Linked DNA regions of Homo sapiens. The protein of the gene in region 2 purifies or fractionates together with the protein of the main gene of each other region. This does not show direct contact. Each region holds a gene or a part of one and is shown on either strand. Other genes may lie near its edges.

What was found. The genes of interacting proteins can lie anywhere in the genome.
Region 1: the proteins of NFX1 (region 2) and YTHDF2 purify together in Homo sapiens (affinity purification with mass spectrometry, with the first as the bait; one large-scale study listed by BioGRID). This does not show direct contact.
Region 3: the proteins of NFX1 (region 2) and GFRAL purify together in Homo sapiens (affinity purification with mass spectrometry, with the first as the bait; one large-scale study listed by BioGRID). This does not show direct contact.
Region 4: the proteins of NFX1 (region 2) and DNMT1 purify together in Homo sapiens (affinity purification with mass spectrometry, with the first as the bait; one large-scale study listed by BioGRID). This does not show direct contact.

Annotation. Positions count from the first base shown.
Region 1 is NC_000001.11:28,735,674-28,739,739, reverse strand, and holds the start of YTHDF2 (YTH domain-containing family protein 2), read right to left. Parts: upstream 2,801-4,066; 5' UTR 2,620-2,800; coding exon 2,593-2,619; intron 2,083-2,592; coding exon 2,058-2,082; intron 1,482-2,057; coding exon 1,402-1,481; intron 1-1,401. UniProt on the Homo sapiens protein: Specifically recognizes and binds N6-methyladenosine (m6A)-containing RNAs, and regulates their stability. M6A is a modification present at internal sites of mRNAs and some non-coding RNAs and plays a role in mRNA stability and processing.
Region 2 is NC_000009.12:33,363,516-33,367,015, reverse strand, and holds part of NFX1 (transcriptional repressor NF-X1), read right to left. Parts: intron 3,007-3,500; coding exon 2,908-3,006; intron 2,309-2,907; coding exon 2,242-2,308; intron 388-2,241; coding exon 242-387; intron 1-241. UniProt on the Homo sapiens protein: Binds to the X-box motif of MHC class II genes and represses their expression. May play an important role in regulating the duration of an inflammatory response by limiting the period in which MHC class II molecules are induced by interferon-gamma.
Region 3 is NC_000006.12:55,330,469-55,333,968, reverse strand, and holds part of GFRAL (GDNF family receptor alpha-like precursor), read right to left. Parts: intron 2,255-3,500; coding exon 2,120-2,254; intron 184-2,119; coding exon 25-183; intron 1-24. UniProt on the Homo sapiens protein: Brainstem-restricted receptor for GDF15 hormone, which triggers an aversive response, characterized by nausea, vomiting, and/or loss of appetite in response to various stresses.
Region 4 is NC_000019.10:10,153,454-10,156,953, forward strand, and holds part of DNMT1 (DNA (cytosine-5)-methyltransferase 1), read right to left. Parts: intron 3,057-3,500; coding exon 2,938-3,056; intron 2,493-2,937; coding exon 2,400-2,492; intron 1,604-2,399; coding exon 1,452-1,603; intron 1,321-1,451; coding exon 1,133-1,320; intron 1,027-1,132; coding exon 840-1,026; intron 1-839. UniProt on the Homo sapiens protein: Methylates CpG residues. Preferentially methylates hemimethylated DNA. Associates with DNA replication sites in S phase maintaining the methylation pattern in the newly synthesized strand, that is essential for epigenetic inheritance.

The sequences.
Region 1 (4,066 bases), on a different chromosome or scaffold from region 2:
CCAACGTTATTGATCTTCATTTGTGCTAAACAGTATTTTAACTTTCACTCCATTTTATAAATCCTACACCTCCCTTCGGTGAGAAATAAAGTATTCTCCACAGATGTAGGTGCAGCTCAACTCAAAAATTTCCTGACTCAGCCGGGCATGGTGGCTCACACCTGTAATCCCAACACTTCTGAGAGGTCGAGGAGGGCGGACCTCTTGAGCTCAGGAATTCAAGACCAGATTGGGCAACATAGTGAAACCCCCATCTCTACAAAAAAATTAAAAAAATTAGCCGGGCATGGTGGTCCCAGCTACTTGGGAGGCTGAGGCGGGCAAAATCACCTGGTAGGCAGAGGTTGCAGTGAGCCGAGATTGCACCACTGCACTCCAGCCTGGGTGACAAGAGTTGACACTACGTCTCAAAAAAAAAAAAAAAAAAATTTCCTAACTCCGAAATAGTTCTGATAATCTAAGAACCCATAAACTAGAGAAAAGAAAGACAGCCAGTCCTGCAGCACTGAATGAAGTTCAGGTGACTATTTTTTAGAGACCAGATCTTGTTCTGTCACCAAGGCTGGAGCGCAGTGGCTTTTCACAGGTATGATCGTAGATAGCTCACTGCAGCTTCAAACTTCTGGGCTCAAGAGATCTTCCCGCCTTCAGGTGATTTTACATTAGAACTTTCCCTATCATATGAATCCAAAGTTCTCTGGGGTGAAAATTCAGAATATTTAACACTGTAAGAATCCCTAAATTCTGCACTGCTACATTCTTGGTAAGGAAGAAGACAATTATTCATGCACATGTTACTGCCAGTAGAGTGTTATCAGTATTACGTTCTCAATACAGTATGGTTGCTGATATTACAGAGATGGGAATCTCAACGGCCTAGGACATTTGCAGTTAACTGTTTTATAATACATTAATAGGTATTAAGGAGGTGAACCCTCAGAACATGGGATTTCCTGATAGAGGGCAGAGAAAAAATACAGGTATTAAGAAAGTGAATCCTCGGCTAGGCGTGGTGGCTCACGCCTGTAATCCCAGCACTTTGGGAGGCCAAGGCGGGTGAATCACCTGAGGAGTTCAAGACCAGCCCGGCCAACATGAAACCCCGTCTCTACTAAAAAAATAGAAAAACTAGCTGTGTGCGGTGGTGCACACGTGTAATCCCACCTACTCGGGAGGCTGAGACAGGAGATTCGCTTGAACCCGAGAGGCGGAAGTTGGAGCGAGCCGAAATTGCGCCACTACACCCCAGCCTGGGCGTCAGAGCGAGACTCAGTCTCAAAAAAACAGAAAACAGAAAAAAGAAAAAAAAATGAATCCTCAGAAAATGGGATTTATTGGTAGAAGGCGGAGAAAGAATATACCACACCCTTCGATTAGATATGTAAATAGTTAACTACTCACGGGCCTTGCCTGTGGACTCAAGTAAGGTTCAAAATCATCATCGTTTAATCCATCCTTTTGATGTACAGATCCATTTTGTACTAAAGAAAAAAAAATTCAATTAGGAGTGTCCCAATCCTACAATCTTCCTTTCAAATTAGTTCATATATGCTAACCAGAGAAAAACCTTACTAGTTAACAAAGCACGTAAGATTGAACTTCAAAAGGGTAAGAGATGACAGTGAATGCTGAAGCGACAGTCGCCAGTGAAAATGTCCCCCTCCACCCAGAGCAAGTTGATCTAAAAAGGTCATTTTATTGGCTCCTCTGGATTTCCATTCCCTCCCGCTTCCCCTCCCCCATCACATGAGAGTACTTCCAGAGAGTGATCCACGAGGATGAAAAACAAAGGCCTTCTAAGACCTACAGGAAACTAAGGACCTGGAGCGTTTCAAAACCCAATCCACCCCCACCCTTAATGAATTACTCCTTGTTAGCGAAAAAGCTGTTCGCCAGCTGCAAGAACACACCGAAAGGGTCAAAATACTTAAGTGTGCGGCACCTGCGAACTAAGCGGCTTCCGAAAGGTCCTCCGCCCGGGGCGCTTCCCGGAGACCCCGCCCCCACCGCCCCGCGTCCCCCTCCCGGCTCAGGGCCACCGGCGGAGCGGGACTTACCTTTGTTTCCTTGACCTTTTGGTCTCTGCAGGGGAAGGAAACGTCGCCGAGCAGCAAGTTGTCCAAAGGAGAAATGGAAAAGGAAGAACAAATTAAGGCAGGGCCCGAAGGGAGAATAAAGGAGCAGGCCCGAGGGGAGGCGTCAGGAATGGTAGTGAGGAAGAGGCTGAAAATGGGAGGCGGGGGAAAGCGCCAGGCCCGTGGGGCAGGGGAGAAAACGCGGCAGACGCGCCACCGGCGACGCGAGGAACCCAGGGCTTTAAGGAAGGGGAAGGAAACAAGGAAGGAAAACGAGGCCCGCCGAGAGAAGGGAACGCGGCGCGGCCCGGCCCGTGGGCTCCGAGGCCCGAGGAGAAGCGGGAAGAACAGGCTGAGGGAGAGGCGCCGGGCGCGGCCGGCCTGAGAGGCCCGAAACCTGGCCCGCAAGAGACGACGCCTCGGCTCGGCTCGGCCTGCCCAGGAGCGGCGGGCCCGGGCCTAGTCGGGCTCCTTCTCGCCTCACACAATGGCCGAGGCATGCGGGCCGGGCCTGTACCTGCTCCAAGAGGCTGCTGGCCGACATGGCTCTCAGATCCTCACGGGCGGCGACGGCGGCGAACTCTCCTCAGCGCGGCGGCGGCGGCAGATGAGCCCCGTCTGCGGGAGCAGGCGGAGGCTTTTGTCCCTGACACTCGGGGGCCTCGGCGGACGCAGCGGAGACACAGCGCGCGGCTCAGGCTCCGGCTCCGACTCGGCGACGCTCTAGCCCAAGAGCTCAATGCCCGTCTCTATGCTTTTACGCGCGCGCCCGCCCCCCACCGCCTAAAGCAGAGCGCCGAACAGCGGAGGCGGGCGGCGCGCGCGGCGCGAGCGCTGACTCTCACATTCACTCACCCACGCGGAAGGGGCCCGGCGCGAAGAACCCCGGGAAGGGAGAGGCCGGCCGCTGCGCCCTCTGGCGGATTGGAGGAGCGGAAGCCGTGCTCACGGCCTCCCCGCCCCCACCGCCCCAGGATTAAGGCCTAGGGGGTTTGGGACGACCAGGGTCGCACCACGAGGTTTCGACTAACACCTGGAAAGACTAGCTCTGGCTTCAGAAGAACGACAAAAGCCGGTTTCTCAGTGAGGGAGGGGCCTCCGAAGCCCGCGAGACCTTAAAATGAACCTGCCTTCCAGCTGCAAGTGATACCCCACCCCCATCTGGGAGGTAACCCGACCCCTAGGGAGTCACACAGTCCCCAGGGAAACTTCATGGGGGCCCTGTCCGGGAGTGACCCGCCCCCGCCCCCGCGAGGGGCTTGGTCATCCTCTGTTAGCCGACTACAGAAAGAGTACCCAGAGAGCAAAACACACACCGAAAGAATCCAGTCTCCCGCAAAAGAGATTCACCCCTTAGCATTGCAGGAAGGAGAATCTACAATTTATTTTCGGGGAAATCGCTGGCCCCAAGATAATCTGTTAAATTGTGGACTTTATTTCCAAGAAAAATACACCTCATGCATCTACACAAAACTTTCAAGGAGTCCGGAGAACCTATGAATCTTAAGGACCTCAAGAGGGAAGCAAGGAAATTAACATTATTGAAATACCAGCTGTGGGCCAGGCTTTGTTGTTAGGTATTTTCAAACACATTAAAGTCTTTCGACAACTTCAAAATCGCTATCAGTCTTTCGGTTTTTTACGACTGGAAAAACAGAAAGCTTAAGTAATGTGCCCAAGTTTACAAAACTATTAAATAGCCAGGTGTATCTGACACTAACATAATGGTATCTCTCTACCCCTACGAGACTCTGTATTAGGGAACCAGAATATAGGGGAGATGCAAAGGATGGGCAAAAGTATTTTCAATCAGAAGCAAAGCCAACTCATGCAGGAATATTTGATACTAGGAAAGCCCATCTAATAGCTTTTGTTATTGCAAGTACGTCGTGGTAAACAGGTAACTAATGCACTAATTGTCAACCTCGTACTATCCACACGCTGGATATAGGAGGCTTGGGTGGACTCGGTAAAATAAATAACATGGCATC
Region 2 (3,500 bases):
GACTGTAGGCAGATGTGACACTTGTGCATTTTGAGTGCATCTGCCCTGTGGGTCGAGGCATAGGTTTTGCTCTTTGGCTCAGGCCTTTAGATTATCTGGGAAGTGCCAGAGAAGCAGATTTTCCTTCTACTTTTCCAAGAGGGAGAGTGGTAGTAAGAAAGACAAGTATTGACAGACCCTGCTTCTTGGGTCCAGTTTGCCCTGCTTAGGAGTTCTTCCTCTGACGGCGGGATTGACCTACCTGATGGCAGTGACCACCACATTGCGCTTCGGTTCACTGTCATAGCTCACGCTCTCCAGGCCATAAACTTGGGCCAAGTCATGGATGATCCGGCGGTGGTCTCTGTTCATGGGAGGGAAGCTGTGGCTTTTCTTACTATTCTTTCCCTGTATTGAGGGAAAAGATGACTGATTGATCATATCATTCTGAAAACAAAATGCTTACAACTAATCTTACCACACAAGAATTGCAGGGATCAATAAGAGGTGATTTTAGAGGCCCACAGCATAGAGCATTTTACTAACTGCCAAGCAAGCCTGGAGGGGTTTGGGAAGATGGGCACTGATGCACTTCTTTCACCTACTCTGTGAGCCACAACAGTCGCAGCTGGACAGGGTTAGGGACAAAGGGTAAGTGAACTGCGACTTAGGTAGACAGCATAATGGTTCTTCCTGATGGGTTCCATAACTGGGGAGTGGGTGATATTCCCCAAAAATGACTAAAGACTTACAAAACAAGAAAATATTATTTCCTTTAAAAGTATGTTCTACTTTAAAAATCGTGAGTATTCAGATACAGACACACAAGCAGAGAAACACATCTGTTGGGGTTTCTTAATTAGGAGAGGAATAATGCATTCCATTTTCTCCTTCATGTTAATATTCTGCTGGGAAGTGGTAACAGAAGGGAGGAAAGGAGGGGAATGGGAAGAGGGTAAGGAGACTGGGAAGGAAAACCACCAGCATTAGATACAGGGGCTAAAGCAACCATCTTGTCCTTACTCACCGTCCCCCCTGATGGAAGGGGGAGGAAGCCAATGCAGCGCTGGGGGCTTCTGACTAAACTCAAGACTTTTCCACTTAAAGCTACCTCCGTGACATCCCTGGCCGCCTCCAGGACAGGGGTCTCCCTCTTCTGAAGGAGTCTATCCCACTGCTCTCCAGCTGTAGTCATACAACTTTCATCCTTCCCAAAGGGGACATTCCTGCCTTTGGAATTATAAAGAACAGTGGGCTTTCCTAGCATACAATAGCCCTTCAAAGATCTGAGGGGCTAGAGTGTCTTCCTAAGTGTCCCACACAGTCACTCAACTATCACTATTGAGCCCCCTCACCCAGAGTTTCTTCATCCATTCTTAGGCACTTGGCCAGCATCTTTATTTTCTTTTTCTTTCTTTCTTTTTTATTGAGACAGGATCTCAAGCTGGAGATCCAAGCTGGAGTACAGTGACTCAACCTCAGCTTACTGCAGGCTTGACCTCCTGGGCTTAAGCAATCCTCCTGCCTCAGCCCCCTGAGTAGCTGGGATTATGGGTGTGCACCACCACACCTGGCTAATTTTTTATTTTTTGTAGAGACAGGGTTTTGCCACGTTGCCCAGGCTGGTCGTGAACTCCTGGACTCAAGTGATCCGCCTGCTGCCTCAGCCTCCCAAAGCGCTGGGATTACAGGTGTGAGCCACCGTGCCTGGCATTTACTTACAGCTGACTGCAGAGCTTTCTTTCTTTCTTTCTTTCTTTTTGAGACAGAGTTTCACTCTTGTTGCCCAGGCTGGAGTGCAGTGGCAGAATCTCAGCTCACAGCAACCTCTGCCTCCCGGGTTCAAGGAATTCTCCTGCCTAAGCCTTGCAAGTAGCTGGAATAACAGGTGCCCGCCACCACACCCAGCTAATTTTTATATTTTTAGTAGAGACAGGGTTTCGTCATGTTGGCCAAGCTGATCTAGAACTCCTGACCTCAAGTGATCTGCCTGCCTTGGCCTCCCAAAGTGCTGGCATTACAGGCATGAGACACTGTGCCCAGCCGACTGTAGATCTTTTCTGCAGTCAACTGTCCTGAACCAGGACAGGCTTCCACAGATGTTATAATGGCTGTGTTTTGAGAAAGATAAGGATCCTCAAAGAAGTTGTGACTTTTTCCTACAACTACTCTAGGTTGAAAGTGTTTCCAGGACTTGATTGCTTTTTTTTTTTCATCAAGCTGGCCTTAGAGAAATGTCCAGTGGGATGTTTCGACTTCAACCTTATTCACGGCCTCCACGAGGGTTTCCATTTCCTTCTCAACGTCACTGACAAACTTTAAGTCCTTCCTGAAATGAGAAATCACCAGTTAATTTTGTCTGTCCCTGCCCTTCTGAGAACCCCTTTCACCCATCCTCTCCCTGTAAAGCGTAGACAATAGACAATGCTGGCAGTAAAACTGCAGAGATCAGGAATTGTCAGAAAACAGAAGGATGACTGACGGAAGAACAAAAGAGAAAAATATAAGAAATGAGAAGATGAAAGGAGAAGTAGCCACTGAAAGGCCAGGGACTCCAGGAGAAAAATAAGAGCTGTTATAGCTCCAACTGAGAACGCATGTGAATGTGAGACTGGGGTGGACAGAAGTGGAATGAAGCCCAGAGATCCTCCAATTTAGTCTAGTCCAGCCCTTGGGAGGCCCAAACTCTTACCACCACCCCACCCAAACTCTTATCTCAACCCTACCCCAAGTTCAGTTCTTTAAGGGGACAGTTTCGAGAAACCAAGAGAAGGATATTTATTAAACAGCACATAATCTCTTACAATAGATAAACAAACAAACTTGAACTGGCTTAATCACAGGAGGAGTACATATTAGTTATGACATCTCAAAAGACCAAACACCCTGACAAGCCACAATTAAGAAAGCAGGTAACAAGTTACATACCTGGCATCTTCTTTCAAACTATCACTGAATTTTGACCCTGAAGAACGTATATTGAAAGGATCAGAATCCTCACTGATATGAAATGCCTCTGCTAATCTCCTGAAAGAGAGAGAGAGGTATGCAAATAAAAGGAGTGGGAGGGAAACTATCTTGCAGTAACCCCGAGTGCCTACTATATCCTAAATTCTTTACACATTATTTATCTCTATTTTGGTAAACTGGATTATTAAGGAGAGAATAACAACAACTTGGGACATGAGGTGGTATTGTCTTCATAAAAGAAAATAAACAGATCTATAAGGATCTGAGCAAGTCATAGGCTGAACACTGGGGACTTAGATTATTTGGGGAAGAGGAGTTTGGGGGTGTGGGATCACTGAGAATGGTCAATGGGGGATGACTTTCTCTGAGGCTTTGTTTAAAGATAAGGTACATAAAATAGACATACAAATGTTAAAATTAATATAGAAATCTGAAAAGTAAAGAATTCCATTAACATATACACTTCATTTTTATACATTTCTTGGCTGGGTGCGGTGGCTCACACCAGTAATCCTAGGACTCTGGGAGGCCAAGGTAGATGGATCACTTGA
Region 3 (3,500 bases), on a different chromosome or scaffold from region 2:
ACATTTCTTAAAACAAAATATTACCTGATTTATTGATACATTTTTTTCCAAGCAGTTTGTTCACAGTACAATAGAAGTCATCAGTGCAAAGACACTCTTTAAATTGGAAATTGCTTTCCACTAAGTACTGGATACTCAGGTTACAGTATGATGAATTCCTCATCTTGCAGGGGTCACCTGGATCTCACAATCAAACACATAACACTATAGATATTAATCTGATTATAATTTTGGATTCTTCCTCCCCAAAGTACTTTTAACATATTAACCTGAATAATTAATTAATATGGTAAGATTATCTGGGGTTGCTGCAAGATATCCATATAAGTGACATTTTATGAAAAACCTGTATTTTCATTGAATATTTTCCATAATGTACTTTCTATATTAAAACTTTCTGCATTTCAAAATAGCTTTTTCCTACTTAGAATATCATTTCTTGCTTTTCAGTAAAAATAAGGCTACTCTTACAGGAGGTGACCAGAATGCTCTCTAATCTTAGCATTTTGTCAGCTTATCTATTTTATTAGCTATTTTGTCATAATCTGATCTTTTATTTTCATATCATTCTCAGACTATAGAAAGATATGTGCAGGTAGCTCTAAATTTATCATTAAAAATTATGTGGTCCTGGCACATAGCACTCAATAAATATTATTGAATAAGTCTCATAATTACCAATATTTCATTTTCTACATTAATTTAAAAATATGTAATCCTCTACCTGAACATTTTCTTTTATTTATTATTCTGAATAAAACTACCTTAGTTTATTTCATTTGTACATTTGAGAATACGCATATTTCAGCTTCATACATAAAATAATTATGCAAATATTATTGCAATTTACTGCAAAAGACTATTTGTATACTGAAATTAAATAAGGTACAATTTGTGACACCTAAATATAATATTTTAACAACATATTTTAAATTGCCTTATAAAATGTAGCAAGAAGTTTAATCATCAAAATAAATAGATTATTTTTAGATTATACTGTAGATAGATTATACTGTAATCTGTATAGATTATGCTGTAGAACAATGTTCTACTGTATAAATTGACTATGTTCTACCACATAGACAGTTTATTCTATTTACTTATTCTATTTACTTTATTCTATTTGTAGTTTATACTATTCTATTTACTTTTAATGAAAGGAGTCTTACTATAATGTTCTCATTCAATGCTTATTTAGCTACTTGAATATTCAAAATATATATATTTTTTCTTTTTAAGGAAATATAGGCCAGGCACGGTGGTGCACGCCTGCAATCCCAGCACTTTGGGAGGCCGAGGCAGGCAGATCACGAGGCCAAGAAATTGAGACCATCCTGGCCAACGTGGTGAAATCCCGTCTCTACTAAAAATACAAAAATTAGCTGGGCATGGTGGCATGCGCCTGTAGTCCCAGCTACTCTGGAGGCTGAGGCAGGAGAAAGAATCGTTTGAACCCGGGAGGCGGAGGTTGCAGTGAGCCGAGATCACGCAGCTACACTCCAGCCTGGCGACAGACCAAGATTCAGTCTCAAAATAAAAAAAAAAAGAAAAAAGAAAGAAAATACCAGTCACTCTCCAATCTTCACATTCTCAACTCTTGAACCTCCCCACAAATGTTTGGAAGGTAGGCCAAGTTAAAAACAAAACTATAGCTTTACTTGTTCTTGACATAGAATTGGAAATACCGCATATATGTTTCAAGAATATACATTGTACATTGTGCATGGACAAATGCACAACAATTATTATAACAAATCTTATTTTTTCTATTTTATCATTGACATATGTAATCAAAATAACCTTTTATTTGAAAAAAAATAGTGCCATGGTTCTCAGAAGAATGCATAAAATTGTAGCATTATACATGGTGAGAGAGGTAAGAAAATAATCTGAAATCTTGAATAATGCTGCCCTCAGTAATTAAAGCTCTTTAGTAATTAAGAAAATCCTTTTGTAATTAAATTTGCTAATACATGATTAAAAGTGAATCGATGGGGGTCAAGATTAAATAAGATACATAGAAAAAAACTTAGTTCTTAGGATAATGACAAAATATCAAATCCTGTTTTTATCTTAGTAAAAATAAATCATTTGAGTGTATTTTTAGCAACTTGTTTACCTGAATCATTGCAGGCATCTTCCATTACTCTCCAAGCATGTTTACATCCATTTGCATCACGTAAGCATTGCTCTCTTAAATATGTGCAATTATTGGTTTGGGAAGTGTATTCATTTTCCAAGCTTAACCCCATAGCTTGAATAACAACAACAAAAACAAGGTTGTAATATAAATTTGGCATCCATTTTCTTCAAATCTAAGTTATTAATGATAAAGAGCAGAATTATGGAAAATAACATGTAGTGAAATAATTGATGGTGGGAATAACCTTAACCTCCTCTCTAGCTGTAGATCTGTATTTCTTTTTATAGATTCTTAAATGAATATTTTAAATTTGCTCATTTTGACGTCTCATCATCTATTTATTCCTCAACTTATAATTTATTTTTATTACTATTATTCCATTAAAACTGCTCTTAAAAAAGTCTCTAATTACCCCTTTAAAATCTAACTTAATGGTTTTAAACTTTATCTCACCATTGACCATTTTGTTGACTTTTTTGTTTTTGAAACTCTTCCTTTGCCAGCCCTCCCTTCTGTTCTCTTGATATTTATCCACTTTGTATTTTCTGACCATAGCTAAAATTATTCCCAGGATCATTTTATTCTTCTAGTAAAGTATAATTTTAGCTTAGGTTCTCTTCTCAGACCTTTTCTATTTTCATTTTATACATTCTCTGCAGAAAATTCCATGTACTCTTATGGTTTGAACTAAAATGTTAGTCTGATGATTCTCAAATGTATAATTTAATCTCAGTATTTCCAGCGTTCCTGTCATAGGTACGTAATTGTTATCTCTACTTGAATGTTTCAGAAACACTTTCACAGGATCTTCATCATCATTGTTCCACTGTGGACCACTACTTCATTCACAATGCCACAATTAACATGAGAACTCAAACTAGAAATCTTGGTTTTGTGGTAGACTATTTTCCATCCTCAACTTCACTCTCCCATATTCATTCTTGCTAAATTTATTGACTTTCACTTTGAGCATTTGTTTAACTTATTAGTCAGTCTGCCTCCAGTTTGAATCTTATTCAGAACCTTATTCAGATAGGTTCTTTGTAACCCCTAATCTACCTGATGTACTATTCTAGTCTTGCCATTTTTCTGTTTTATATCCTTTAAACTATTTCTCATATCAGGGCTCTCATATTCCTCACCATGTGCAATCTGGAAGGTCTCAAGCATTTATCGTTTCCCGAATGATCCATGCTGTCTTCTACCTCTGCATACCTACTGTCTGATCCCTGATAAGTATTTTCTTTCTTTTTCTTCTGGAATAACCCTTTTTGTTGTTTAAAACTGAACACAATCATTAGCTATTTTCTGGAAACTTTACTTGAATTCTATACTCCCCTTTTTCCACACTCAAATT
Region 4 (3,500 bases), on a different chromosome or scaffold from region 2:
TGAAACCCCATCTCTACTAAAAATACAAAAAAAATTAGCCGGGTATGGTGGCGGGTGCCTATAATCCCAGCCACTCGGGAGGCTGAGGTGGGAGAACTGATTGAACCCGGGAGGCGGAGGTTACGGTGAGCTGAGATGGTGCCACTGCACTCTAGCCTGGGTGACAGAGAGAGACTGTCTCAAAAAAATTAAAAAAAAAAAAAAAAGATTTTAGAAGTTATAAAACATTGGACACACGTGTGTTAACCAAGAAAAATAAAATAAAACCAAAATAACAATGGTGAGGACATGCAGGCTCCTGTTAAGAGATGCCAGCGGGGATCAAAAGCAAAGCCCTGAAGCCAGTCTTTATCCAAAAGAAAGTCAGGTAATAGGTATCAAAATAGTCCTGGTCTTTGGGTCATAGGACTAGGAAGTTAGTTCCTCCTGAGTGAAGTAAACATATATTTTAAAAACTCACAGAAAGGGACGCCTCCTGAGGGCCTCAAATCTAAGCTGGACAAAGTGCCCACTTAGATGTGAATACCCCTTTAGCAGTCCAACAGGGGCCTTCAGACTGTGAGATGCAGGCACAGCAGAGCCACCCAGAAGCCAGGCTCTTCAATTAAGGACAGTGGCATTATCAGCAAAGCACCCAAGCATGCCTCTGTGGACATCTGTCCTATTGACGTTCAATGAAGTATGCAGGGTCCTCCCAGACCACTAACTAATTTCTGTCTCAGGGGTCACATTTGAGCAGCCAGAGTCTCAAGCCACAGAGAGAAAGATGGAGCAGTCCTCAGATCAGGCCAGAGGCTGGGCCACCTTAGGGGAGCGGGAGCACCCACAGGTGAGGTTACCTCACAGACGCCACATCGCCGGCGCTTAAAGGCGTTCTCCTTGTCTTCTCTGTCATCCTTTTCAATTTGCTCTGCGAAGAAAGTATCGAAGATCTGGTAGACCAGCTTGGTGGTGGTGGCTTTCGTGGGTCCCCTGTCCTTCTCCCTGGTAGAATGCCTGATGGTCTGCCGCCTCGCCTGGGCTCGCCTACGGGAGAGGTTCCAGCATCTCAGAGGACTGGGACAGAGGATGTGGGCCATGCTCTACCCTCCCCGGTCTCCAGTCTTCACTCTGGTCCCTGCCGCATCCTTACCTCTGTCCCAGCGTGACCCCAGCCAGCTTGATCAGGTCCCGCATGCAGGGTGTCAGGAAGATGGGCTGCTCATCACTGTCCCCGGCCTCGTCATAACTCTCCACCTGCTCCACCACAAACTGCGCGTGTCGCAGGAGGGAGTCCTCTGTGAAGCGGTTCAAGTTGAGGCCAGAAGGAGGAACCGTGGTCTTGAAAGAGAACAGGTTTCTCTCATGCTTAAGCCAAACTGGCCTAAATCCAACTGAAGAACAGTGTCTGCTGGTTCTGAAGGCAAGTTTCCAGTGGGAATCCCGGATGCTGAGGACCCTCGATCTCTTACCTCGATCTTGTTGATCAGGTCCTCATAGGTCGAGTCGGAATTGCTCTGCAGGAACTCCACCACAATCTTGCTGATGTAGATCTTCTCCTGCATCAGCCCAAATATGGGCGCATACTCGGGACTGGGATCCATCAGAATGTATTCGGCAAATGCTGGGGTGAACAGAGGAGGTGTGGAAAAGGGGCTGGAATCTGATGGCGCCTACAGTGGCCACAGGGCATGGAGGAGTCTACCAAACTCACCCAACAGTCTAAAAGTCATCCCGTACCCAAATGTCAGAAACATAGGGCACAACACATCATAGCTGGCTTGTTCTGAAGAAGCCTGTCTGAGCCAGCCAGAGAGCGAAGACTAGCTGAGTAGGCCTTCATTGAGCTCATCTCTGGTGTTTGGAATTCAGTCTGGGTTTGGGTTGCAAGAATAAGACCTGCTCTTTTTTTTTTTTCAGGGGAGGACAGAGTCTTGCTCCGTCACCCAGGCTGGAGGGCAGTGGCGTGATCTCGGCTCACTGCAACCTCTGTCTGCTGGGTTCACGTGATTCTCCTGCCATAGCCTCCCAAGTAGCTGGGATTACAGGTATGCACCACCATGCGTGGCTAATTTTTGTATTTTTGGTAGAGAGGGGGTTTCACCATGTTGGCCAGGCTAGGCTGGTCTCGAATTCCTGGCCTCAAATGATCCCCCCAACTCGGCCTCCCAAAGTGCTGGGATTACAGGTGTGAGCCACCATATCCGGCCAAGACCTGCTCTTACAACTGGAGAGTCAGTTCCAGAGCCAGTCATAACTAACACAAGAGGCTACCCCAACTGAACCTGCTAAGGTTCCCAGTCACATGGCCTTCTGCAAGCCTGCTGAGAATTCCCACCAGAGCCCCGTCAGCCCCCAGGAAGGAGAACATGAAGGCCCCTTTCAGACCCCGGCCAGCCTATGATGGGCCACACACTTACAGGTGCTGAAGCCGATGAGGGCCTTTTCACCTCCATCAAAGCCAGTGATCCACCATTCATTTATGGGGCCAAGATTTTTGCCATTAACACCACCTAGAGCAGAAAAAGGAAATGGACTAAAGGCTCTGACTCACATCCCAAACCCAGGAGGCGCTCTAAGCGCCCACTCAGCAGACATCCCATCAGCCAGGTCGGGTGCTCCTCAGTCATCACAATGACTTGGCCTACAGCTGCTCCTGGCACAAAGTCTCACACCCTAACTTTAAGAGGCAGCAGCAACTCCAGCTGACTATTGCTTCATAAGTATGTTTTTTATTTATACATATATATAAGTATATATGTATACTATATATATATGCTATATATTTTTTTTTAATAGAGGCAGGCTCTTGCTATGTTGTCCAGGCTCGTCTCAAACTCCCGGGCTCAAGTGATCCTCTGGCCTCAGACCCCCAAAGTGCTAGGATTACAGATGTGAGCCACCCTGCCTGGCTGTTTTTAAAGTGTGCCCCAAACATAATCCCGGACTATTCCTTACCTTCAAGAGATGGGTCATCATCATAGATTGGTTTTGCTGAACCAGAAAAGAAGAGTTCGATATTCTTCTCGATGAGGCCGGTGTCGATGGGACACAGGTGACCGTGCTTACAGTACACACTAGACAGGAAACAAAGCACATGCTTACCAGCTAAGCCGTGAAGGCGGGTCTTCGTGCAGACTTCAGATCAGGCACGAGGCAATGAGAGAATGTACAAGTCTGACACTCTTTTTTTGTTTGTTTTTGAGACAGAGTCTTGCTCTATCCCTCAGGCTGGAGCGCGATGGCATAATCTTGGCTCACTGCAGCCTCCACCTCCCGGGTTCAAGTAATTCTCCTGCCTCAGCCTCCCGAGTAGCTGGGATTACAGGCCTGAACCACCATGCCCGGCTAATTGTTGTATTTTTAGTAGGGACGGGGTTTCACTATGTGTAGCAGGCTGGTCTCAAACTCTTTATCTCCAGTGATCTACCCACCTCAGCCTCCCAAAGTGCTGGGATTACAGGCTGAACCACCATGCCTGGCCCCGACACTCATTTTTTGGTTGCGGGAACACTGGATTA